Linked DNA regions of Homo sapiens. The protein of the gene in region 6 purifies or fractionates together with the protein of the main gene of each other region. This does not show direct contact. Each region holds a gene or a part of one and is shown on either strand. Other genes may lie near its edges.

Evidence for each region.
Region 1: the proteins of KRABD3 (region 6) and PPP2R3B purify together in Homo sapiens (affinity purification with mass spectrometry; 2 studies listed by BioGRID and IntAct, with this or other methods). This does not show direct contact.
Region 2: the proteins of KRABD3 (region 6) and JPH1 purify together in Homo sapiens (affinity purification with mass spectrometry; one large-scale study listed by BioGRID and IntAct). This does not show direct contact.
Region 3: the proteins of KRABD3 (region 6) and SHCBP1 purify together in Homo sapiens (affinity purification with mass spectrometry; 2 studies listed by BioGRID and IntAct, with this or other methods). This does not show direct contact.
Region 4: the proteins of KRABD3 (region 6) and IFT172 purify together in Homo sapiens (affinity purification with mass spectrometry; 2 studies listed by BioGRID and IntAct, with this or other methods). This does not show direct contact.
Region 5: the proteins of KRABD3 (region 6) and TRIO purify together in Homo sapiens (co-immunoprecipitation; one large-scale study listed by IntAct). This does not show direct contact.
Region 7: the proteins of KRABD3 (region 6) and CRIM1 purify together in Homo sapiens (co-immunoprecipitation; one large-scale study listed by IntAct). This does not show direct contact.

The regions. Positions count from the first base shown.
Region 1 is NC_000023.11:341,908-345,407, reverse strand, and holds part of PPP2R3B (serine/threonine-protein phosphatase 2A regulatory subunit B'' subunit beta), read left to right. Parts: intron 1-3,476; coding exon 3,477-3,500. UniProt on the Homo sapiens protein: The B regulatory subunit might modulate substrate selectivity and catalytic activity, and might also direct the localization of the catalytic enzyme to a particular subcellular compartment.
Region 2 is NC_000008.11:74,238,041-74,241,540, reverse strand, and holds part of JPH1 (junctophilin-1), read left to right. Parts: intron 1-3,500. UniProt on the Homo sapiens protein: Junctophilins contribute to the formation of junctional membrane complexes (JMCs) which link the plasma membrane with the endoplasmic or sarcoplasmic reticulum in excitable cells.
Region 3 is NC_000016.10:46,597,380-46,600,879, reverse strand, and holds part of SHCBP1 (SHC SH2 domain-binding protein 1), read left to right. Parts: intron 1-917; coding exon 918-1,049; intron 1,050-2,532; coding exon of another isoform or gene 2,533-2,594; exon of another isoform or gene 2,595-3,500. UniProt on the Homo sapiens protein: May play a role in signaling pathways governing cellular proliferation, cell growth and differentiation. May be a component of a novel signaling pathway downstream of Shc. Acts as a positive regulator of FGF signaling in neural progenitor cells.
Region 4 is NC_000002.12:27,448,244-27,451,743, reverse strand, and holds part of IFT172 (intraflagellar transport protein 172 homolog), read left to right. Parts: intron 1-1,647; coding exon 1,648-1,746; intron 1,747-1,943; coding exon 1,944-2,053; intron 2,054-2,181; coding exon 2,182-2,245; intron 2,246-2,363; coding exon 2,364-2,450; intron 2,451-2,712; coding exon 2,713-2,829; intron 2,830-3,500. UniProt on the Homo sapiens protein: Required for the maintenance and formation of cilia. Plays an indirect role in hedgehog (Hh) signaling, cilia being required for all activity of the hedgehog pathway.
Region 5 is NC_000005.10:14,286,342-14,289,841, reverse strand, and holds part of TRIO (triple functional domain protein), read right to left. Parts: intron 2,972-3,500; coding exon 2,779-2,971; intron 1-2,778. UniProt on the Homo sapiens protein: Guanine nucleotide exchange factor (GEF) for RHOA and RAC1 GTPases. Involved in coordinating actin remodeling, which is necessary for cell migration and growth. Plays a key role in the regulation of neurite outgrowth and lamellipodia formation.
Region 6 is NC_000007.14:149,724,951-149,728,450, reverse strand, and holds part of KRABD3 (protein KRBA1), read right to left. Parts: intron 3,137-3,500; coding exon 2,963-3,136; intron 2,565-2,962; coding exon 2,391-2,564; intron 1-2,390.
Region 7 is NC_000002.12:36,354,291-36,358,577, forward strand, and holds the start of CRIM1 (cysteine-rich motor neuron 1 protein precursor), read left to right. Parts: upstream 1-1,487; 5' UTR 1,488-2,002; coding exon 2,003-2,333; intron 2,334-4,287. UniProt on the Homo sapiens protein: May play a role in CNS development by interacting with growth factors implicated in motor neuron differentiation and survival. May play a role in capillary formation and maintenance during angiogenesis.

The DNA.
Region 1 (3,500 bases), on a different chromosome or scaffold from region 6:
CTGCAGCTGCCTCTCCTTCGCACTCGCCGCTCTGTGTCTGCAGCTGCCTCTCCTTCCCCAGTCGCTGCCCCGTGTCTGGGTCCCCGCGTGCGCCTCTGCCCGAGGCCTCTGCCTGGGGGCGTCTACAGGGTCAGTGTGGGCCGCTGGTCCTGAAGCTCCTGGCCCGAGGGCCAGCAGCGCTGTGGGGCTTCCTTGTTAACACCCGAGCAAGGGCGGGCAGGCCACACGCCTTCCCTCAGGAGCTCCAGGTTCCAGCCCCCAAGGCCTGGAGCAGTTTCCATCCAATCCCGGGCTAGGTGGAGCCCCAGGCTTAGCGGTCGTTCATATACCTCCGCGGGAGCCGGTGCCGCCCAGGTGTCCTCACAGCAGCCACTGCCTCCCGGCCCCTCTAAGAGTCATCCACACTTGCAGGAACTCAAAGCGGCCTGTGGCCTGTGGGGCTTGAGTTTTCTAAAGGATTCCTTTAAGTGTGCTTTTTACCCCAAAAAACCATATGACCAAGACTGTTTCCGAATTACGGTGGCATCTGTTGTGTGTGGTCGACTCATAATACGCCTGGTTCCCCGAACGTGAGCTGCACCCGTCTGCGTCTCCCGGGGCTGGTCCTGGGTCGCGTGGCCGCAGTAGATCCCTGCGTCGGACGCGCACCTGAGCAGACGTAGCATTCCCTGGATTTGTCCTGCGCTCAGTTCAGGGAGCCACCTGCGCCCTGGGCCCCTAACTAGCCACGAGGAGAGCACAGCTCCACAGCGCCGGCCCGTGTGGCCTGGGCCAGCACCTGCACAGCTGGGAATCGGCCCAGAACCAGGCGCTCACTGTCCCTGTGAACCCCCGGCCCGGCGCGGCCCCAGCTTTCCGCGTTCCTCTGGAGCCCACTCTCGGTCCCAGGGCAGGATGCCGTGTGCGGCCGGGCTGCGCTGTTTCTCACGCACTGCGGCCTGAAGCGGGGGGCGGCACCTTGGCTCGTGCGTCCCAGGGACACCGGTGACCGCAGGGATGGCCGCCCAGGCTGCGGGACCTTCTCGTGGCCCAAGCTGACGGCGACGGTGCTTTCACTCCTGCCTCCCGTTGGTGAGGTCTCCCTCCCGCCTCCCGTTGGTGAGGTCTCACTCCGGCCTCCCGTTGGTGAGGTCTCACTCCCGCCTCTCCTTGGTGAGGTCTCACTCCGGCCTCCCGTTGGTGAGGTCTCAATCCCGCCTCCCGTTGCTGAGGTCTCACTCCCGCCTCCCGTTGGTGAGGTCTCCCTCCCGCCTCCCGTTGCTGAGGTCTCCCTCCCGCCTCCCGTTGGTGAGGTCTCACTCCCGCCTCCCGTTGGTGAGGTCTCCCTCCCGCCTCCCGTTGGCGACGTCTCCCTCCCGCCTCCCGTTGGCGACGTCTCCCTCCCGCCTCTCCTTGGCGACGTCTCCCTCCCGCCTCCCGTTGCTGAGGTCTCCCTCCCGCCTCCCGTTGCTGAGGTCTCCCTCCCGCCTCCCGTTGCTGAGGTCTCCCTCCCGCCTCTCCTTGGTGAGGTCTCCCTCCCGCCTCCCGTTGCTGAGGTCTCACTCCCGCGTCTCCTTGGTGAGGTCTCCCTACCGCCTCCCGTTGCTGAGGTCTCACTCCCGCGTCTCCTTGGTGAGGTCTCCCTCCCCCCCTCCCGTTGCTGAGGTCTCACTCCCGCGTCTCCTTGGTGAGGTCTCACTCCCGCCTCCCGTTGCTGAGGTCTCACTCCCGCCTCCCGTTGGCGAGGTCTCCCTCCCGCCTCCCGTTGGCGAGGTCTCACTCCCGCCTCCCGTTGGCGAGGTCTCACTCCCGCCTCCCGTTGGCGAGGTCTCACTCCCGCCTCCCGTTGGCGAGGTCTCACTCCCGCCTCCCGTTGGCGAGGTCTCACTCCCGCCTCCCGTTGGCGAGGTCTCCCTCCCGCCTCCCGTTGGCGAGGTCTCCCTCCCGCCTCCCGTTGGCGAGGTCTCCCTCCCGCCTCCCGTTGGCGAGGTCTCCCTCCCGCCTCCCGTTGGCGAGGTCTCCCTCCCGCCTCCCGTTGGCGAGGTCTCCCTCCCGCCTCCCGTTGGCGAGGTCTCCCTCCCGCCTCCCGTTGGCGAGGTCTCCCTCCCGCCTCCCGTTGGCGAGGTCTCCCTCCCGCCTCCCGTTGGCGAGGTCTCCCTCCCGCCTCCCGTTGGCGAGGTCTCCCTCCCGCCTCCCGTTGGCGAGGTCTCCCTCCCGCCTCCCGTTGGCGAGGTCTCCCTCCCGCCTCCCGTTGGCGAGGTCTCCCTCCCGCCTCCCGTTGGCGAGGTCTCCCTCCCGCCTCCCGTTGGCGAGGTCTCCCTCCCGCCTCCCGTTGGCGAGGTCTCACTCCCGCCTCTCCTTGGCGAGGTCTCACTCCCGCCTCCCGTTGCTGAGGTCTCACTCCCGCCTCCCGTTGCTGAGGTCTCACTCCCGCCTCCCGTTGGCGAGGTCTCACTCCCGCCTCCCGTTGGCGAGGTCTCACTCCCGCCTCTCCTTGGCGAGGTCTCCCTCCCGCCTCCCGTTGCTGAGGTCTCCCTCCCGCCTCCCGTTGCTGAGGTCTCCCTCCCGCCTCCCGTTGCTGAGGTCTCCCTCCCGCCTCCCGTTGCTGAGGTCTCCCTCCCGCCTCCCGTTGCTGAGGTCTCCCTCCCGCCTCCCGTTGGCGAGGTCTCACTCCCGCCTCCCGTTGGCGAGGTCTCACTCCCGCCTCCCGTTGGCGAGGTCTCACTCCCGCCTCCCGTTGGCGAGGTCTCACTCCCGCCTCCCGTTGGCGAGGTCTCACTCCCGCCTCCCGTTGGCGAGGTCTCACTCCCGCCTCCCGTTGGCGAGGTCTCACTCCCGCCTCCCGTTGGCGAGGTCTCACTCCCGCCTCCCGTTGGCGAGGTCTCCCTCCCGCCTCCCGTTGGCGAGGTCTCCCTCCCGCCTCCCGTTGGCGAGGTCTCCCTCCCGCCTCCCGTTGCTGAGGTCTCCCTCCCGCCTCCCGTTGCTGAGGTCTCCCTCCCGCCTCCCGTTGCTGAGGTCTCACTCCCGCCTCCCGTTGCTGAGGTCTCACTCCCGCCTCCCGTTGCTGAGGTCTCACTCCCGCCTCCCGTTGCTGAGGTCTCACTCCCGCCTCCCGTTGCTGAGGTCTCACTCCCGTCTCCCGTTGGTGAACCTTTGGTTGAAACGTGTTTGTTTCCGTGATCACACTCGAGGTCTCTCTCTCCGTCTGAAAGCTGTACCTTTGAGGCCTGAATATTCTGCTCTTTACAAGTCGGTCTTGGAGCCGCGGTCAGCTTTGCGCTCTGTGGATTTCATGCTGGACTTGGCTCTGCTCGACGGGAAAGCGTGGTGGGCCCCTAGGATGGGCCGTGCAGGGGCATCGGGGCCCCGGGGCTCTCCCAGACCCAGGCGTCCTCTCAGCTTTTCGGTCCCCACCGCATCCAGTCTCGGCTCCGGGGGGTGGTGACGTCGGGGCCGAGGCACGGTGCGGGCTGCCCATCAACCGCATTCCTTTCCAGCCCTTTCTACCAAGATGATAGACA
Region 2 (3,500 bases), on a different chromosome or scaffold from region 6:
TTAGGATTTCTTTCTGTATTTTGATTTCCTGTTTTTTATTTTCTTACCACCTGGAAAATTTCTTCCAATCAAGACTTACCCTGTGCCCTGCTACAGCTTCTTGTATTACACCTGTCCCAGTCAGTCTTGAAAAGCAAGACAGATTTTTTTTTCATTTTGCTATTTTAAGCTACAACTGGCCACCACAGTCGTATTTATGAGACTTTACCTTAAAGCTTTTCACCCCATATCCTGTGCCTAGGTATATAAAGAACACAGAGGCCAGGGCTTGGTATCTGCCACTGAACAGAGCATCCCGGATTTTTATTTTTCCCCTGGTTGCTGTTTGAAGCTTTCATGTCTAGTTTTCCCTCATCTTCACTGAGTCACCTTTAAAAATAGCTTTCTAAGTGGAGCCACCCTGGTAGGATAAATATATATGTGTGTGTATATTAGAACATATACAGGAGAAATATGTGTGTGTGTGTATGCGTGCAAAAGAAAAAAATATATATGTATGTATTTTTCATTTTGGATAAAGCACTCATTCACTATTCATTGAATCTGGATTGCCAGTACAGTGATATGTGGGCTAAAAACTAGAGAAAAGATAGTAATCTAAATTCAAACCAAAAGAATATACAAATTCAAAATACTCACTAATTCAAAGGGGTTAGATAAATTCACAGAATCTTATATGGATTTATGAAATGGGAGTTAAGGTTCAGGCACACCTTGGACTTTAGAAGTTGGCTTCATGGAAGGCACGTTCTCTGCTATTTCACTTTCCTGGGTCCACTGTAAGACACCAAAGTCTATGTTGTATTGTTCTGACCAGGTGTATTTTTCCTCACCTTTCATATCACTAAATTACCTTTGAAAATTATAAAATAAACCCAGTAGCCCAGAATAGTTGAAATGATCCAAAATTCTTAAAACACTCATGAACAAAATCTAATCTAAGTGTGTAGTAGTACAGGTGGAACATCCAGAATGCTCCAACATCTGGTCATGATGTGAAGTGAAAGAAGCCAGGCACAGAAAGACAAACTTTGCATGTTCTCATTTATTTGTGGGAGCTAAAAATTAAAGCGATCACACTCATGGAGATGGAGAGTAGAAGGATGGTTACCAGAGGCTGGATGGAAAGTGAAGACGTAGGGGAGAAGAGGGGATGTTTAATGGATACAAAAAAAAAAATAGAACAAATAAGATCTAGTATTTGATAGCACAACAGGGTGACTGTAGTTAATAATAATTTAATTGTACCTTTTAAAATAACTAAAAGAGAACTGGGCACGGTAGCCCACACCTGTAATCCCAACACTTTGGGAGGCTGAGGCGGATGGATCACTTGAGGTCAGGAGTTCAGGACCAGCCTGGCCAACATGGTGAAACCCCGTCTCTACCAAAAATATAAAAGTTAGCTGGGCATCGTAGTGAACACCTGTAGTCCCAGCTACTCGGGAGGCTGAGGCAGGAGAATCACTTGAAGCCAGGAGGCAGAGGTTACGGTGAGCCAAGATCGCGCCACTGCACTCCAGCCTGGGTGACAGAGCAAGACTCCACCTCAAAAAATAAAATAACTAAAAGAGTATAATTGGATTGTTTGGAACACAAAGAATAAATGCTTTAGGTGTTGGATACCTCATTACCCTGATGTGATTATTACACATTCTATGCTGGTATCAAAATATCACATATATACCATGTTACCCACAAAAATTAAAAATTTTTTAAATCTCCAGAATCTGAAACTTTTAGAGCACCAACATGATGCTCAAAGGAAATTCTCATTGCAGCATTTTAGAATTTTGTATTCGGGATGCTCAACCTGTACATCAGAAGAAAATCTGAAACCCCAAACACTTAGGGTCCCAAGTGTTTCAGATAAGGGATGCTTAGCCTGTAATAATATTTCCTTAATCTCTGTGCTCAGTTGTGACATTGAAAGATCGTCTCCACTATTTTCTGAGTTATAAGAGTTTTCTGCATTATTTCTATGCTCTAAATTAACCATAATTGAGGAGTTGCACAGGTTAGGACTCTCCTATCAATTTAGAATTACAACTATTCTAAAAGAGCAGTTGGTCGTTATCACAATTTGATGTTTTTCTGATACTGTGGAAATTATAGGATATAGAGGAAAATGTCATTTTAAAGGACTGAATGGGAAATTGCCTTTAAACTAAGGCCTGTATCTTTAATAGACATATAGAGAAAAGAGCATGGAGCTCTGAAGTGACCAGACTAAAGCTTAATTCGAGTTCCAATTTGTTCAAACTGGCTGAGGAAACTTGAGCAAGACACCTGTCCTCTTAAGCTCTGTAAAATGGAACTAATAATCACTTGTGAAGAATAAACAAAAAAAAAAATCTCAGAGATGTTTAACCCACTGCCCAGCATTATAAAAACCTGCAAAAAATGTTTATTTTCCTCCCATTTACTTGGGGTTTAGGAACTGATGCTTTTCTTCTGCCTAATAGTCCCCACTTAAAGGGGACTCATGTTTACTTCCTCTCCCTCCCCCATTTTACTCATCACCCTGTTTGTTCTTCATTTAATTCAGTGATTTAATCCATTTCGTTTAACAACCCACATTTGGGTCAGGCACTGTGGTACACGCCTGGAATCCCAGCACTTTGGGAGGCCAAGGTGGCAGGATCGCTTAAGGCCAGGAAGTTGAGACCAGCCTGGGCAACATAGTGAGACCTCATCTCTACAAAAAATACAAAAATTAACCAGGTTTGATAGCACGCACTGTTGGTCTCAGCTACTCAGGAAGCTGAAGTGGTAGGATAGCTTGAACCTGGGAGGTCAAGGCTGCGATGAGCTGAGATCACACCACTGCATTCCAGTCTGGGTGACAGAGCAAGAGCCTGTCTCAAAACAAAACAACCCACATCCACGGCACTTGGAAATGTGCTGGAAGATAGTAGAGTCTCATTAAATATTGGTTGCCTGAATGAATTGGGCAATGTCACGTGTCTGTGCACTGGGTACATAGCAGTGAATAAGACAAGGCCCCTGCCACTGTGGAGCTCAGAGTCTTGTGGGGGAAAATAGCAGTTAAACAACAAAGGATAATCAAGTGTGAAACGCCTTGTGATAGAGAAAGAGCAGGGCACTCTGACCTCTACCACGGAGATGTGGGCTCAGTCAGGGAAAGAGACCTTCTTGAGTCAATGATGTGTGACCCAAACCCTAGACCCGAATTGATTAGTGTTTGACCAATGACAGCTCCAATCTCCATTATTCACTTACCCCACACCCAAAAAACATCAATACTTTTGAGGCCTCTGTAACATTGTTTCAGTGTAGTCTTACCCAGTATCCAAATGGAGTACCACTGTTTCCTCTTCTGTAAAATGAGGACAATAAAACTACCTACCTCATAAAGCCAGTTTAGAATACTTTTAATGCTATATAAGAATTAGACATTATTTTAACAGTAAATACCACAATCATGTCTTTGTAATAAAGGTGGCTTCTTCATGGAGCAGATCTGAAAAGATGGGTTA
Region 3 (3,500 bases), on a different chromosome or scaffold from region 6:
TGCCACACTCGGCTAATTTTTATATTTTTAGTAGAGGCAGGATTTCTGTATGTTGGCCAGGCTGCTCTTGAACTCCTGACCTCAAGTGATCCACCTGCCTCAGCCTCCCAAAGTGCTGGGATTACAGGCGTGCGCCACCGTACCCAGCCTTGATCTGATGCTTTTTATTTGTTAATGAGGTAGACTGTTTTTTTCCTGTAACTGTAACTAGTCAGTTTGTCAGATTTTAAGCCAACTGTTTAAGAGAATATTAAAATTAGATCATCTTGAGAACTGTTTAGGTTTATTCAAATGTAATTTATATTAGAATCATAGAATGTTAGAGTTAGAAACAAACTTCTAAGGGTGAGTGCTTTAAAGTTCTTTGACTCAGCTGTAAGTCCTTATTATTATTATTATCATTTTTTGAGATGGGGTCTCATTCTGTCACCCAGAATGAAGGCTGGAGTGCAATGGCATGATCATAGCTTACTGCAGCCTTAAAATTCTGGGATCAAGTGACCCTCCCACCTTAGCCTCCTTGAGTAGTGAGTAATTGGTGCATGCCACCATGCCTGACTAATTTTTTTGGTTTTTGTAGAGATGGAATCTCACTGTGTTGCCTAGGCTGGTCTTGAACATTATTTATTTTTTATAGCACTTTTGAAAGTGAATTTAGTACTGAGCTGATGTGGGATAGTTGATAGGGTAGTCTTCCTGATACGGGACTAGTCAGAGAGTTGTTATTGTTAAAAATTGGATACCCTGATTTAAATTAAACAGGATATGTGGGGAGATAGATTTTATTTAAATGCAACATGGTTGACTGGTCTCATTATCATCTGCAGTCATTTAAACTAGAGAAACTTGTTCTACAGTGTTCACGTTTAGATGTTTTTCCTCACCCATCTTGAGTGTTGTTGCTCTCTCTTCCTTAGGATATGGCCTACCAGATGACATTGTGATAGAAAAGAGGGGCAAAGGCGACACTTTTGTGGACTGCACTGGTGCTGATATTAAAATCTCAGGCATAAAATTTGTTCAGCATGATGCTGTAGAGGGAATCTTAAGTAAGTATCTGAATGTTTGGTATATCATTTGTTCTAAGATTTGAAGGTAAACGGTTCTCTCTATGGAAGATAGAATTTAATGAAATGCCACTCTTGAGTACAGGCATACCTTGTTTTATTGCACTTCACGATGCTGAGTTTTTTTTTTTTTTTTTTTTTTTACAAATTGAAGGTTGTGGCAACCCTGTTTCAAGCCAGTCTGTCGGCACCATTTTCCCAAGAGCATATGCTCACCTTGTGTTTCTGTGTCACATTTTGGTAACTCTCACAATATAGATAATATGCTGATCTGTGAACAGTGATCTTGATGTTACTACTGTAATTGTTTTGGGGTGCCATGAACCACATCCATAAAAGATGGTGAACTTAACTGATAATTGTGTGGGTTTTGACTGTTCCACCGATCAGCCATTCCCCTATCTCTCTCCTTCTCTTTGGGCTACCCTATTCCTTGAGACACAGCAATATTGAAATTAGGCCAGTTAATAACCCTACAATGGCATCTATGTGTTCAAGTGAAAGGAAGAGTCACATGTCTCTCATGTTAAATTTAAAAATTAGAAATGTTTAACATAGTGAGGAAGGCATGTCGAAAGCTGAGATAGGCTGACACCTAGGTCTCTTGTGTCAGTTGGTGAAGTTTTGAATGTAAAGGAAAAGTTCATAAAGGAAATTAAAAGCACTACTCTAGTGAACACATGAATGATAAGAAAGTGAAACAGTCTTATTGCTAATATGGAGAAAGTTTCTGTAGTCTGGATGGAAGATCAAATCAGCCACCACATTCCTTAAATCAGAGCGTATTGCAGAGCAGAACCCTAACTTCCTTCAATTCTGTGAAGACTGAAGGAGGTGAGGAAGCTGTAGAAGAAGAGTTTGAAACTAGCAGCTGTTGGTTCATGAGGTTTAAGGAAAGCAGCCATTTCTGTAACATAAAAGTGCAAGGTGAAGCAGCAAGTGCTGATGCAAGCTACAGAAAGTTAACCAGAAGATCTAGCTAAGGTAATCGATGAAGGTGGATACACTAAACAACACATTTTCAGTGTAGATGAAATAACCTTCTATTGGAAGAAGATTCCATCTAGTACTTTTCATAGTTAGAGAGGAGAAGTCAGTGCTTGGCTTCACAGCTTCAAAGGACAGGCTGACTCTCTTGTTATGAGTGAATGTAACTGGTGACTTTAAGTTGAAGCCAGTGCTCATTTACCATTCTGAAAATCCTAGAGCCCTTAAGAATTATGCCAGATCTACTCTGCCTGTGCCCTAGAAATGGAACAACAAAGCCTGAATGGTAGCACATCTGTTTATAATGTGGTTTACTGAATATTTTAGGCCCATTATTGAGATTTACTACTGAAAAAAAAAATTCCTTTAAAAATATGATTGCTTATTGACAATGTACCTGGTCATCTGAGAGCTATGATGGAGGTGTACTGGGAGATTAATGTTGTTTTCATGCCTGCTAATAATATCCATTCTGCAGCCCATGGATCAAGGAGTAATTTCGACTTTCAAATCTTACTATTTGAGAAATACACTTCCTAAGGCTATACCAGCTATTGATAGTGATTCCTCCGATGGGTCTGGGCAAAGTCAATTGAAAAGTTTCTGGGAAGGAGTCATCATTCTAGATGTCATTAAGAACATTTGTGATTCATGGGAGGAGGTTAAAATCTCAACATTAACAGGGGTTCTGGAGAAGTTGATTCCAGCCCTCATGGATGATTGAGGGGTTCAAGACTTGAATGGAGGAAGTAACTGCAGATGTGGTGGAAATAGCAAGAGAACTAGAGCCTGATGATAGCAAGTAGAACCTCAAGACGTGACTGAATTGCTACAATCTTATAACAAAATTGGAACAGATGAGGAATTGCTTCTTATGGATGAGCGAAGAAGGTGGTTTCCTGAGATAGAATTTCCTGGGGAGGATGCTGTGAACATGGTTGAATGACAACAAATGATTTAGAGTATTAGGTAAACTTGGTAAAGCAGAGGCAGACTTTGATGGGATTGACTCCAATTTTGAAAAACCTTCTACTGTGTGTAAAGTGCTATCAAACAAGATCACATGCTACAGAGAAATCCTTTCATGAAAGGAAGAGTCAATCAATGTGGCAAACTTCATTGTTGTCTTATTTTTAAAAATTGCCATAGCCACCTTAACCTTCAGCAAACACCATTCTGATCAGTAAGCAGCCATCAACATTGAGGTAAGACCCTCCACCAGCAAAAAGATTATGTCTTGCTGAAGGCTCAGAGGATTGTTAGCATGTTTTAGCAAAACAAAGTATCTTAAATTAAGATGTATATATTGTTAAAAAACATAATGCCTTTGTACACTTAATAGATGCATTATAAACATAGTACTCATTAGTATAAACTCATATGCTCATTAGTATAAACACAACTTTTATTTTTTTTTGTTTTTAGAGACAGTCTCACTGTCATCTA
Region 4 (3,500 bases), on a different chromosome or scaffold from region 6:
CCCAGGCTGGAGTGCAGTGGTGCAATCTCGGCTCACTGCAAGCTCCGCCTCCTGGGTTTAGGCCATTCTCCTGCCACAGCCTCCTGAGTAGCTGGGACTACAGGTGCCCACCATCATGCCGGGCTAATTTTTTTGTATTTTTTTAGTAGAGACGGGGTTTCACCGTGTTAGCCAGGATGGTCTCCATCTCCTGACCTCATGATCCACAAGCCTTGGCCTCCCAAAGTGCTGGGATTACAGGCGTGAGCCACCGTGCCTGGCCTTTTGAGGTCTTAAAACTCAATAACCCCTAGAAGTTAGAGGGAGAGAAGTAGAAAGAGAGGGGCTGATGATTGGTTTTGAGGTTCTAGCAGATTTTAATCAGCAGTATTGAATAAGCATCTGATATATGTAACTTGGGAGCATGGCATGACTGTACCTTTTTCAGATTAGTCAGAAAATGGCTTCCTGATGCAGACAGGGCAGATTAAGCTTTGAAGGGCTTGGCAGTAAGAAAGGGAGGCAAGAACAGGTGAGGGAAAGACCAGAGGGGATTAGCATAAACTACAGTGAAATTGGATTGTGTGGAAATTGAAATCTGGTAAGGATGTCAGCATCATAATGGAAACAGAGTGATCTCATTGAACACTTGGGTTTGTAGAATTTCTGAGTTTTAAGTGTTGAAAGGTTATCATCAAGACCATCTATACCAGCACTGGCACTAGAAATATAATGCAGGCCACAAATGTAAGCCATACATGTCATTTAAATTTTCTAGTAGCCACATTTAAAAAGAGTAAAAAAAAAAAAAAACAGGTAAAAATAATTGTAATATATTTTATTTAACACAGTATATCTAAAATACACCATTTCATCTGGGCGCAGTGGTACATGCCTGTAATCCCAGAACTTTGGGAGGCCACGGTGGGCAGATCACTTGAGGATCAGGAGTTTGAGACCAGCCTGGCCAACATGGTGAAACCCCATCTCTACTAAAAATACAAAAATTAGCTGGGCATGGTGGTGGGTGCCTGTAATCCCAGCTACTCAGGAGGCCAAGACAAGAGAATTGCTTGAACCTGGGAGGGAGAGGTTGCAGTGAGCTGATATTGTGCCACTGCACTCCAGCCTGGGCGACATAGCAAGACTCTGTCTTAAAAAAATTAAATAAAATACTACCATTTCAACATGTACTCACACACATTATTTAGATATTTTCCATTCTTTTTTTATACTAAATCTTCAAAATCCAGTGTGTGTGAATGAAGAAACAAGTTCATAAAAGCCCAACACAAATAGTTACAGAATGCCCTGGACTCCTTATTTTAGGAGTCCTTTCTCTGTACTCTGCTACGAAGATTTTACTTATGACAAAGACCTTGAAAATGATTTTGTCAAAGGCGGAAGTTTCAAATGCAGTGACCTCAGGCAGCGCAGGAAGTATCTGAAAGAGTTAATGAACTGAGAGGAAAGATAGGTCCACTGATGGCTAATCAAAGGATCTAATGGACCATGAGCCAGGTTTTGCCCAGGAGGGTGCAAGGTTGAAGGGGAGAGTAAGAGAAAAAGTTGGCATCTGGAGGAGAAAAATGTATGAAATGGATGAGGCTGAGGACTCAGCGGTATTTGTCTCTCCTACCCATTTCCATCTTCTGTTCAACCACTCAGGCAGCTGAACTCTCCATCAAGTTTCTGCCTCCCCAACGTAATATGGAAGTCGTTCTGGCTGTAGGACCCCAGCTGATTGGAATTGGAAAGCACAGTGCAGTAAGTAGGATGCTGAGATGGAACAGAAATAGATTTCACAGAGATGGGTGCAAGGGTGACATCTACACCCAGGAAGGTGTGTGAGGTGGGCCTCCTGGTGGGCATGGCTTGCAGTCCTGGGGAAACAGATGGGAGAGCTCACAGTGGGAAGACTGGGAGCGAGGAGAAAGTCTCCACGCTGATTTCCCACTGTGCAGGCTGCAGAGCTCTATCTGAATCTGGACCTTGTCAAGGAAGCAATCGATGCTTTCATCGAGGGTGAGGAGTGGAACAAGGCGAAGCGTGTAGCTAAGGAGTTAGATCCCAGGTAAGCTTGTAACCCCTTCTTACTGCGAAATTCTCTTTTACTTCCTTTTGTAAAGACTGGGAGAAAGTCTTACCGGGAGGGTTGGTATTCTGGAACATGAAGATGGAGCTCTCTGAACATCTTCACAGGTATGAAGACTATGTGGACCAGCATTATAAAGAGTTCCTCAAGAATCAGGGCAAAGTGGACTCGGTGAGACTTGGAGAGTTAGCAGGAGGCAGAATGCAGGGAGAGACTCACAAGACTCTCTCCCTCTTCTTTCCCTCATGTCATCTCTTTTCTCTTGTAACTCTGTCTTCCATTGACCCAGCTGGTGGGTGTGGATGTGATAGCTGCTTTGGACCTGTATGTGGAGCAGGGCCAGTGGGACAAGTGCATTGAAACAGCTACCAAGCAGGTACTGCTCTCTTCCCATTCCCAGTTTTTCTTTACATTTTCCCTTGATTCCCCACCTGCCTCAAAGATGCATCTCTTCTACCTCCACAAAAACCCAAAGCCCAAAGATTTCTAATGGGCATCAGAGAAGCTCAGTCTGAAACTGGGGTCAGAGGTTTGCGTACACCCTTTTTCCCCTCAACAAATACATGGCCTCAAGTCACCTCACTGCTTGGTCTTGCCGATCCCAGCCTCACTCATGCTTTTCCTCCACCCCTGTACAGAACTACAAGATTCTGCACAAGTATGTGGCTTTGTATGCAACTCACTTGATCCGGGAGGGTAGCTCTGCCCAGGCATTGGCCCTGTATGTACAGCACGGAGCCCCTGCTAACCCACAGGTACCAGCCTTCTCCTTGGGTTGAATGTTTCCACAAGAAAGCTCTTTCTCCTCTAGAACCACCTATCTTCTCAGGAACTATCTTCTCAGAGGATTCTATCCTTAGAGAACGTCATGCCCAGAGCCCCCCACGCATCTCCAGAAATGTACAGCCTCTCTGGAGGCTGTGTATTTGCTAAGAGCATGGGGAGGTTTGCAGAAACTTCCAACTTCTGTTTGAAGAAACACCCGTGGAGCTCCCCATGCTGTTAGCAAATACACAGGCACCTGTCTTTCAGAGATGAATCCTGCATACACCTCTAGGGCCTTTATTGACTTCCTCCAGAGAATGAACACTGCTCCCTGATCTGAGTCACAATGTTGTGACTCTGCATTTACATTTGTACAGTTGCCCACACTCACACAGCACCAGCTAAGAAAGTTATTTCTTCCTCTTTTCTCTTTATCAAAAATAATCAGCACTTAAAAATAATTTACTTCATTAAAAATAATCAGCACTTAATAATCTGCCACTGTTGGCCGGGCGCAGTGGCTCACGCCTGTAATCCCAACACTTTGGGAGGCCGAGGCAGGCGGATTACGAGGTCAGGAGATCGAGACCATTGTGGCTAACACGGTGAAACCCCGTCTCTACTAAAAATATAAAAAGTTAGCTGGGCGTGGTGGCAGGCA
Region 5 (3,500 bases), on a different chromosome or scaffold from region 6:
AGTCTTGCTCTGTCACCCAGGCTGGAGTGCAGTGGCGCAGTCTCAGCTTACTGCAACCTCTGCCTCCCAGGTTCAAGTGATCTCCTGCCTCAGCCTCCCGAGTAGCTGGGACTACAGGTGCCCACCACCACACCAGGCTAATTCTTTTGTATTTTTAGTAGAGACGGGGTTTCACCATGTTGGTCACGCTGGTTTCAAATTCCTGATCTCAAATGATCCACCCACTTCAGCCTCCCAAAGTGCTGGGATTACAGGCATGAGACATCGCACACGACCTTTTTTTTTAAAAAAGGAAAAAAAGGGTCATGCTCTGTCTTCCAGACTGGAGTGTGGCGATGATTACATGCTGTAAGCTTAAATTCCTGGGCTCAAGCCATCCTCCCATCTTAAGCCTCTTGAGTAGCTGGAATTACACGTGTGCCACCACACCTGGTGATTTTTGTTTGTTTGTTTTTTGAGACAGGGTTTTGCTCTTGTTGCCCATGCTGCAGTGCAGTGGTGCAACCTCAGCTCACTGCAACCTACACCTTCCGATTTCAAGTGATTCTCCTGCCTCAGCCTCCCGAGTAGCTGGGATTACAGGTGACTTACACCACGCTCAGCTAATTTTTGTATTTTTAGTAGAGATGGAGTTTCACCATGTTGGCCAGGTTGTCTCGAACTCCTGACCTTGTGATCCGCCCGCCTCGGCCTTCCAAAGTGCTGGGATTACAGGCATGAGCCACCGCGCCCGGCCACACCTGGCTAATTTTTAAAACAAAATATAGAGACAGGCTCTTGCTAAGTTTCTCAGGCTGGGCTCGAACTCCCAGCCTCAAGCAGTCCTCCTCCCTTAGAATCTCAAAGTGCTGGGATTACAGGCATGAGCCACTGTGCCTGGCCTCGGCAAGAAATCTTAACCTCACCTTATCATGATGTGAAGCAGATTAATATTAATATGCCTCAAGGAAAACATGGAGGGGGAAGATTAAATGCAAAGACAAAGGTGAAGGAGAAAGAGTTGTGACCTAGAACCAAAAGAGAAAACAAGAAGGGCTGGTCCGGCGTGCTGGTTGGCAAAAGAAACATCAGAAGGCAGCAGAGGTAGAAGAGGGATGACTCCTGATCCAGCACTTATGCCTACAATCCTACCATAGGCCCATTCCTCTCTCGTTTGCTGGACTTTTTTTTTTTTTGAGGCGGAATCTCGCTCTGTTGCCCAGGCTGGAGTGCAGCGGCACAATCTCGGCTCACTGCAAGCTCTGCCTCCCAGGTTCACGCCATTCTCCTGCCTCAGCCTCCCAAGTAGCTGGGACTACAGGTGCCTGCCACCACGCCCGGCTAATTTTTTGTATTTTAGTAGAGATGGGGTTTCACCGTGTTAGCCAGGATGGTCTCAATCTCCTGACCTCGTGGTCCGCCCGCCTCGGCCTCCCAAAGTGCTAGGATTACAGGCGTGAGCCACCACACCCGGTCCTGCTGGACTTTTAATAATCTCCACAGAGGCAATCACTGGGTGGGGAGAGAGAGGCTGGTAACAATGTAACAAGTTCCATAGAAAAACTGGTGCCTTTAAGAGCCCTGAGGGAGAGATCAAAACTGGACTGGAAAAACCTGTATGAATTGTATTGCCAGACCATTATTTTTACTTAAAACACTTATAATTAAATACAATGCACTTTCAATTCTGCATCAAGAAAATAATTAACACCCAATAAACTGTCCTCCAAAATTACTTCCTATTCTCTATGAAGATAAAGGCTTACTGGGTTCATCTTTCTGATGGAGTGTAGTAAACCTGAGTAGTTTCAAATTTAAAACTAAGTTCATATTTTGGATAGAAAAATGAGTACTATGGAAAGAATTTAAAAATCCAAGTAATACACCTGTGCAAACACTTTGAAAAGTATAGCATTATAACCTGAAGATTAAGGATTAACACTGTCTGATGTTTAATATTATTGCTGTTTACCTTAAAATACATGAATACATCCACTGAAACCTAACGTTTGAGCAGATTTGCCAGAGGAAGCAATCTATTCAACCAAAAAGTATTTCTTATTAGAAAATATTAAAATCTTATTCCAAATGGAGCAAGAATCAAGTTTCATGCTGGCAGGAAGACTTTCCTCCCATAATCATCTCATTAAACTAACTGCACCGAAGGCCTTGTCAGAACCTTGGTAGCTTAAGGAGAGGAGGTTACAGTGGGAAGCAAAATAATTAGTGGGCTGAGGGTTTTGTCTTGTTTTTACCACTGAAAGACGGCAATCTTCCATGCCTAACTGAATTCAGGACTCTGCACAGTTTTTAACACACTATCTCCATTTTCAGAAATCAGAGGCCTAATACATGCATTCTTTCCATTATCCATGACAGGATGAAACTTAGGGACTCTGAAGTTGGGCATTTCTCCCTAACATTCCCTCATCTCCAGGGCTGAGGCAAGGAGAATGAATCTGTAACTGTGCAAAGCCACAGTGCTGCCTGGTAAAGCTGTTTGTCAAGTGAAATATAAGGCAGCCAGCAAGCTTCTCTGCCAAGGCCTCACAACTCAACAGCCCATCACCCAACCCAAGGGAACTGAAACCTAAGCCCATGTGGGTAAAACAATCCACTCGGATGATGAACGCAGCTCTGTTATTTCATGCAGTAACTAATTTTACGTATCACATGTTCGTAAGATATGCAGCTCCTGTTTAATATGTGGTTTAAAAAAAAAATCTCTCATTAGCCTCAATAGCTTTTAGTAAACCACACCAACTTGTTTAGTGGGTCTAGCCACACGGGGGAAGTTACCTCAAATTCAAATTTAGAACTGCCAAAATTAGTCCTCTGTTTCTGCCAGAAGTTGTCTGGCTTGATGATCAGGGCCACATGGATGCAGCAGGGGAAGGACTCCTGCAGGATCTTCAGAAGGGGCTTGATGGAGTCCCACTTGGACCCACGCATGTCCACGATCACCGTGAAGCCACGCTTGCAGACCTCCTCGCTGCAGAGAAAGAAAACATGGCTGAAGACGGGTTACATCTCTTGCCACTCTGCCTGGTCAGAGTCCCACTGGGTGCCACAGACCCAGCTTCCCTCCCCTGCTGGACACGTGCGGAGGCAGGGGAAGGAGCACACTGTGCTCAGCTCCTTCTCGTCCCTCCCTTGTACCATAAAGGAAGAGACCCAGGCTATACACGCTTCATGTTCAACCTGCAAAACCTGTTAAGATTTCAATTTTGTATTAATGGTTTTGCATCCCGTCTTCTTTTCAGGAAAACAACGGTCACCATGCCCATTTCTCCTGACTTTGGTGCATTAATTGATTACATGAACTCCTCCAGTCACTCCTGCGAGCAAAGGTCTCCAGGGAGCATCGGGTGAGTACAAAACCCTGACAGCCTGCAACAAAACCCAGACTGGGGACAGTCTGAGACCTGTGGACGGCAGTTACCCCAGGACTCCCAGCACCCCAGGTGCTGAAAATGACCCCCCACTAGCATGGCTGGCAATGATGAGAACTTTCTTATGTT
Region 6 (3,500 bases):
TTCTGCTGTGTCCAGGGAAGGGGGGTCACAGGGGTGCTGGGCACAGAGCACTGGACGTGTCAGTCCTGGCTCTGGCGCGGCCCTGCTTTGGCTGCCGTGGAAGAAGCCTGGCCTGTCCTGGCCACCCACATAGAAGCCTGGCCTGCGGCTGTCATGAGGGCGTTGGCCACAGGTGTGGGCTCTAGTCCTCCTCAGCACACCCAGCTGCCACCACCGTGAGGGATGACACATCCTGTGTCCCCAGCACAGGGGATGGTCCCACAGATGGAATGTGCTAAGACTTCCTTCACCACTCACAGCAGGGCAACAACACAGGCCCCCTGGCCTCTGGGCCATGGCGGGCCAACATGCATGCAATTTCAACTAGGAAAGAACTAAACACACTGCAAACATCCTATTTCCAGTGACAGCTGTGCGAGTAACAGGAACTAGATGGACTGAAACTCTAGAGTGAGGAGAGCCCTTCCTAATAAAGCAGACAGTGCTGCCACTCTCTTTCCCGACAGCATTTGCTGACGACTCTGGGCCCAGGCACAGGGCGGGAGGGCAACCTCAGAACTTCTGAATGTCCACAGGCTGGAAGGGCAGAGACCAGCCCTTCCAGACCAGGAAGGGCTGGAAACCAGAGGACCCCCACATGCATTTTCTCCACAGCACGTTCGCTGAGTTCTGGGGCAACAGAGGGAGCCGGGAGTTGGCTGGAAGCTTCTGACAGGCAGTGTGAAATATCCTGCAGTTTGGGTTACTTAGTAAACAAAGTCTGCCCAGGCAGAACACATGAAGCATGCTACCGAATACCACGCTGCTGTCCAAAAGAAGAAACTGGTGCTAGTGGCCAAGGAACATGAAAAGTATAGAAAGGGGTCAAAGACAAATGCTGACGACAAAGGCAGCCTGGAGGGGGCATGTATAGATGCTGCCCTCTGTGTGAGGAGGAGGAGGGGAGTGAACTCACAGCAGTGGCAGGAGGGGCTGGAGTGCCGAAGGCTTCATTTTCCCTACATAACCTTTTATAGCTTTTGAACAAAGCTATGTGATCATATTACCTATGAAGTCAGTTGCACTATAGGGGAAAAGCCCCACACCCAAGCGGCTAACCCATAGTGGGGCTTGGGAATTCAGGCTGCTGTGGACACTGGCAGGCCCCAGGCCTGTTCTACAGGCCCCACAGGCCTGGCCAGAGCTGTGGCTGCTGTGAGAGGCCTGTTCAGTAAATACATTGGCAGTCAGGACACAGGTGAGCACGGAGGGAGTGGTGTCGGCAGGACAACACAGACCAAGAGGACTCGGATTAACCAGGTGGGGGAAATAAAAAGGCCAAGAGGGGATGCTGGAGTCCTGCAAGATCCCCAAGTCTGCAGGAGCAACTCGACTGGAGTGAGCCGGGGAGGCACAGGTCACCAAGCACACGCTGAAATGTTTCTGACATGAACCTCACTGTATGTTTTCCTAAGTTGGGGGTCAGTTTGATATTACAGGCAATTCTTTGTGGCTGGGGTAAGGAATTCAATGCAAAAAGGAAATTTTTATGTATTTATTTTTGAGATGGGGGTCTCACTCTGTCACCCATGCTGGAGTGCAGTGGTGTGAACATAGCTCACTGCAGCCTCAAACGCTGGGGCTCAAGTGATCCCCTGCCTCAGCCTCCTGAGTAGCTGGACTACAGACTACAGGTGCTACTCCACCCAGATAATTTTTTAAATCTTCTGTACAGGCTGGGCGCGGTGGCTCATCCCCATAATCCCAGCACTTTGGGAGGCTGAGGCGGGCAGATTGCCTGTGGTCAGGAGTTCGAGACCAGCCTGGCCAACATGGCGAAACTTCTTCTCTACTAAAAACACAAAGATTAGCTGGGCACGGTGGCGGACACCTATAACCCCAGCTACTCGGGAGACTGTGGCAGGAGAATCGCTTGAACCCAGGAGGTGGAGGTTGCAGTGAGCCGAGATTGTGCCACTGCACTCCAGCCTAGGCAACAGGAGTTAGACTCGTCTCAAAAAAAAAAAAAAAAAATTCTGTATAGACGGAGTCTTACTATGTTGCCCAGGCTGGTCTCAAACTCCTGGCCTCAACTGATCTTCCTGCCTCAGCCTCCCAAAGTGCTGGGAGTACAGGCGTGAGCCACTGTGCCCAGCCCAAAAAGATTTTAAAAGAAATCTTAGACATTGTCCTGTCCCTTCTAAGACAAGTCACTAAAACGGAGCCCCCTCTCCACCCTAGGCTCCCACAACCCACCCAAGATAAGTCCCGCATCTGCTCCTGCCTCAGTATCCCTGGCTCTGCTCCCAGCACGGGCATGGGGGTCTGACCCAGTCAAGCCAGAGGGACTGGGCAAGGGGCCTTGAGTCCTCTCCCAGGATGAACCCCAGCCTCGGGCTGGCCCAGCTCACCTTTTCCAGGATGCTGCCCCTGGTTCCCCACAGGACTCCCAAAATCCAGGTCCCAGTCGGTGCTGCTGGATGAGGAGAAGCTGGTGGGGGTTCCTCGGGGGGCCAGGGGCCTGCTGGGGCCATCTCTCACACAGCTCTGCAGACCCAGAGGCAGAACAGGCTCTCTGGTCGCTTCTGTAGGGAACAGCACAGTTGTGGTCACCAGGAGGCTCACTGGAGAAGAGACTCCTGGGCCATGGGGTGCACGGGCACCAGAAGACCCTGCCCCAAAGTATCTCCCACTAGGGTTTCCCTGTGGCACTGATTCAACTCCCATAGCACGTGACCCACAGAAACCCCACAGTGAGTCTCGTGACTGGAGAGAGTTCTGAGAGAAGGAAGTAGGGCAGGAAGATCTGCACTGGCTTTCAGCACATGCGGGCGGCTGTTTGGGAGTGAGTATGAAAGGCAGCCTGGGGGAACGGGCCTGTGTCTCAGGAGGCCGGGGAACACAATGACCCGACAGTCCTCAGCATCTGCCTCCGCTGCCACGCTCAGGGACATGCCACCCCGCGCCCATGGCCACAATCTACCTTCACTGTGTGATCTGTGGGGTTGCAGTTCAGGCTTCTGAGACCTAGAGTCTCCTGGCTGGGGGTTCTGGGAACAAGAAGTGGGTGGCAGCTGGGAAGGTGACGACCCATTTGGGGGAATGCCCTTCAGACAGGCTTCCAGGGCTTCCAGCGGTGAGCTTGAGGCACTGGCAGCTGGAACAGGAGAGAGCACCCTGTTACCATCTCCCACACATTCCAGCCTTGCCCATCAGACCCCTGGCTGGCTCTACCCGACGTGCTTTCTACAGGGGTGACGAGTCCTGTACCAGGCTCTGGCACCTGCCAGGCAGGAAACCCTTCTGTGGGAGACTGATCGGCTCTCGCCCCCCACCCTGCTCCCTGGAAGGCATGAAGACAGGAGGGGAGTGAGGAGGGCCACATGTCAGCAGGGGTAGCTTTCAGGGCCAGGAATCACTGCAAAACGAAGGCCCCGAGGCAGCGGGGGCTTGGACAAAGGCCTGGGCTGAGGAGGCTGTGGATGAAGGGATTCACTGCTTGGGAAGAAAGGCCAGGGGGC
Region 7 (4,287 bases), on a different chromosome or scaffold from region 6:
GAGTGGTTAAACTAAAATATTTATCGTAAGTATGAATTTGTTCCACAAACATAACATTTCAAAGGTAGCTTTGTTTCCTCTTTCCTTGCACTGCCAGCTATTAACTTTCGGTTCATTAGTCACGATTTTCAGAATCCACTTGGCTGCCACCTTCCTGCAGCCAGACCATCTTGGATCAGAGGGTGGGCCAGCCATTCCCACGTCACACCTGCCACGGGATCGATTTTTTCCCCCATTGACCACAGTCACTTTTTGTCAATTAATTAATGTTATTCACCTGGTACCCATCTTGTGAATGGTAGGTCACTACGGAGCGGATTACTACTTCATATCCCATCAATGACAGAGCCATCATTACGAAAACCTTTTCTGACAACCACTGAAGAGAAACCATCTCCACACCGTGCATTTTGCATCACTTCCGTTGCTTCTTTACCTGATTTATCACAAAGACTATGTACCACACATCTTCTTTATTAATGCATTGACAATCAGTGAAGACAATGAAAACCCACCACTTTTGTCCGTGAACTGAGAAAGAAAATGGCAATGTCATATGGCATTAATGATGCATGAGATCTATGGGTGTAGTGTCACGTCTAGGCGTGTAGTAATCCAGTCTTCGGCCTTACTCCAGGGAGAAAGATTCAGCTTTGTTACTTTCCAGTCACTCTCTCCCGTAACACAGCACCTTGGCACAGAAAGCAGAGCGACAAAACCCAGAATGAGGACAGTTAAAATTCAACTCAAGCTACAGCCATCCCAACGGTCCTCCCCAGCTCCCGCGGAATATTTACCAAGACCGTTTAAAGCACTTAATTAATTCACTTCAGCTTCGCTGGAGAGGTCTCAGGGTTCCCGAGACTCCATTACATAATATCTTTCACAAAGTCTATTCCCAGCTCGAATGGAAGATGGATTCTCATCCAGTGTGCGGAGGTTCCATGCCTTTGCTTCCCTTTCCCGGAGTTCGATCCGGCGATACCCTCCCGAGGCTGCAGCCATCGCCCCGGCCCCGAGCTTCTGGGGTACCCGCCACTCTTCGAACTCCAATCTGGCCCCGAAGGTGCAGCCGCCTCGCCCTCCTGGCTCCCAGGCCGGCCGCTGCGGCCACGGTGCCAGCGAGCGCCCGGGACACCGCGACTCTCGCTGCTCGCTGGGTGCGCCCCAAGCCCATCCGCAGCGCACCCGCGGCGCCGGGGCCAGAGCCGCAGCTCGGTGGCACGGCCGGCTCGGTGCGCCGGGCTCGGGGAGGAGGAGATCGGGAAGAGGTGGAGGCGTGTGAGGGAGGGAGGAAGGGCCCGGCCGCCCGAGAGGGGGAGGGGGAGGCGGAGGGGGCCGGCCGGGCCGGGGAGGGGGGGCAGCCAATGAGCGGCGCGCGGCGCGTGGGGGTGGGGGGAAGGTCTGGGGGAGGAGGTAGGATGGGGGAGGGCGCAGCCCGAGCGGCTGAGGCTCCAGCCATAAACAAGCGCCCGGAGGAGCGGCGCAGGAGTGAGGCGAGCGGGGCGCGCGGAGCGGACGCCGCGGATCTTGTGCTGCGCCACCGCGCCCACTCGGCAGCTCGGGAGGCGGGGACCGGCCCGGAGGCTGCGCCGCTGCGGGGCCGGCCGACTCGGAGGAGGAGAGGGAGGAGGCGCCGCCGGCCCGGGCTGGAGCCGAGCGCAGCAGCCACCGCCGCCGCCGCGCCAGAAGTTTGGGTTGAACCGGAGCTGCCGGGAGGAAACTTTTTTCTTTTTTCCCCCTCCCTCCCGGGAGGAGGAGGAGGAGGAGGAGGGGAAGCTGCCGCCGGCGCCAAGGCTCGTGGGCTCGGGGTCGGCGCGGCCCGCAGAAGGGGCGGGGGCCTCGCCCCGCGAGGGGAGGCGCGCCCCGGGGGCCCCGAGAGGGGCGGTGAGGACCGCGGGCTGCTGGTGCGGCGGCGGCGGCGCGTGTGCCCCGCGCAGGGGAGGGCGCCCGCCCCGCTCCCGGCCCGGCTGCGAGGAGGAGGCGGCGGCGGCGCAGGAGGATGTACTTGGTGGCGGGGGACAGGGGGTTGGCCGGCTGCGGGCACCTCCTGGTCTCGCTGCTGGGGCTGCTGCTGCTGCTGGCGCGCTCCGGCACCCGGGCGCTGGTCTGCCTGCCCTGTGACGAGTCCAAGTGCGAGGAGCCCAGGAACTGCCCGGGGAGCATCGTGCAGGGCGTCTGCGGCTGCTGCTACACGTGCGCCAGCCAGAGGAACGAGAGCTGCGGCGGCACCTTCGGGATTTACGGAACCTGCGACCGGGGGCTGCGTTGTGTCATCCGCCCCCCGCTCAATGGCGACTCCCTCACCGAGTACGAAGCGGGCGTTTGCGAAGGTACGGCCGCCCGCTGCGGGCCCCCTCCCACCTGGCCTGCGCCGCCCCCTCGGCGCTGGTTGTGCCGAACAAAGTTTGGGCGAGACTTTCTGGAGGAAAGAGGGCTCTGCGGGAAGAGGGGCGGCCGCCGCCCCCAGGAGAGTGCCCCCGCGGCCCTGCGTTCCCTCTCCTTGTTCCCCCCGACGCTTAGGCAGTCGCGGGCGAGGTTGGGTATGGTGGGTGGGGGCGAGCGAGTGGAGGATCGCCCCTGTCCCCGCGCAGACGCGCACACGTGTGGCCGTTCCTGCTGGGACTGGGTGGCCCGGCCTTGCTCCCCGAGGTGGGGGCGCCGCGGGCGGGGGGCACTGCAGATTCTGCCGCGCGCGAGCCCCTCGGGGAGCCCGGCCCTACCGCCCTCCCCGCACTGGCGCAGTGTGGCACCGTGAGCCGCACGCCGGCCGCGAAAGTCCTTTTTCTGTTGGCGGAGGAGACGTGTCTCCAGCTCGCACTCCCCGAGTGACTCTTATTATTTTTTCCTTGAGCTCTTCCTTCACCCCTTCCTCCTCCTCCGCAGATAAATCAGTTTCAGCCGCGGAATATGTCAGCCCAGGGGAAGTTACACACGGTGGTTACTCATTTATTTGCCCATTGTAAACGGTCAAAGGCTTTCTCTCCTGAAAGGAAAGGGGGGTGGGGGTTGCACCTGGGAGTAAAAAGTTGTTGCTATTAGTGGCTGCTTTTTAATATCAGATACCCGCGTGTTTCCTGTCGTGTTGCCGGTTCCTCCTTTTTGTTTGTTTGACAGCGGGGATTGTTCTGCTGGCTTCTCCAGCACGCATTGTGCTCCGCGGTGTCGAGATTGACGGTGGGAGAAACAGATTAGATTAGTGGAGTCTTTCTCGTTGGGGAGCCAATGTTAGTGCGTGTTGGCTTTAATCCCTGCCCGCTTGCGTCGGCCTTCAGGGTGCCTGGTCTGGTTTGGGGTCTAGAGCGAGGCAGTGAGTTATTTTGATGTGGCTAACGGGGGCACGGTTCGGTAAGCATCAGTTAAAAGTGGGATCCCTGCTCTGGCTGACGTTGGGCTGATGATGCTGTTCCGGGGGCATCCTGGCGAGTGAGCAGAGCGCACGCAGCAGCCTCGTTTCTGGGGAGGCGGCGAGGAGGGACAGGCGCCCTCTGCCCGGCGTGCCTTCCTCACTACTCACAGCCAGCACCGTCCAGGGAACGGTTTATTCCGAAGCATCTTTGTGTGTGTTTGTTTAGTATGCTGGGATACTGAAAAAGGAGGTGACAGCCTTAAGGATAACAATGGACCTATTAAAAGGCTTCAGTGCTGTGATTCTCTCTAAATACGCACAGACACACACATAGGTACTTATTTATACCTGAATAGTTTGGGGTTTGGACAGTTCAGGAAAATAGGGGAGGGTTTTCTGGTTTGGAAGCTAGTGGGCAGTGATGAGTGAAGGGAACTCTTCTCAGAGGGGAGGGACTTGCTCTTGCTTTGCTGCACACGTAAGACATTGGGTTAGAAGAGATCATTTGCCTGAAGTACAAAAAAGCCTCTCACCTGGTATTGTCCCCTTTTATAACTTGTTTTTATGCCTTACCTCAAGAAAAATGGCCATGAGATTAACTTCTGATACCATTGTATGTGTTTTGACTTTGGGAATTCTGAATGACCTAGACTAAAAGATGCATCTTTGAACCCTGCCGCTTCAAGTGTATAACTTAATCCGGCCTCTCGTAAATCTGAAAAGAACAGGCGACATGAAACACAGTTAAATGCAGTGGAAACTGCTGTGTTCCAAGAAGGACTTTTGCAGGTTCTGAAGATTCTAACCCTTGTTTTGTTTCTTCTTAGTCTGTTTCTGGTGAAGGAAGTGCTCAGGGAACATTTACAGTAATCGAGTGTTGTGGCAGCAATATCCCATGTCACAGTATAGAGTTATTTTGGCAGTTTCGTGAGCCTTTC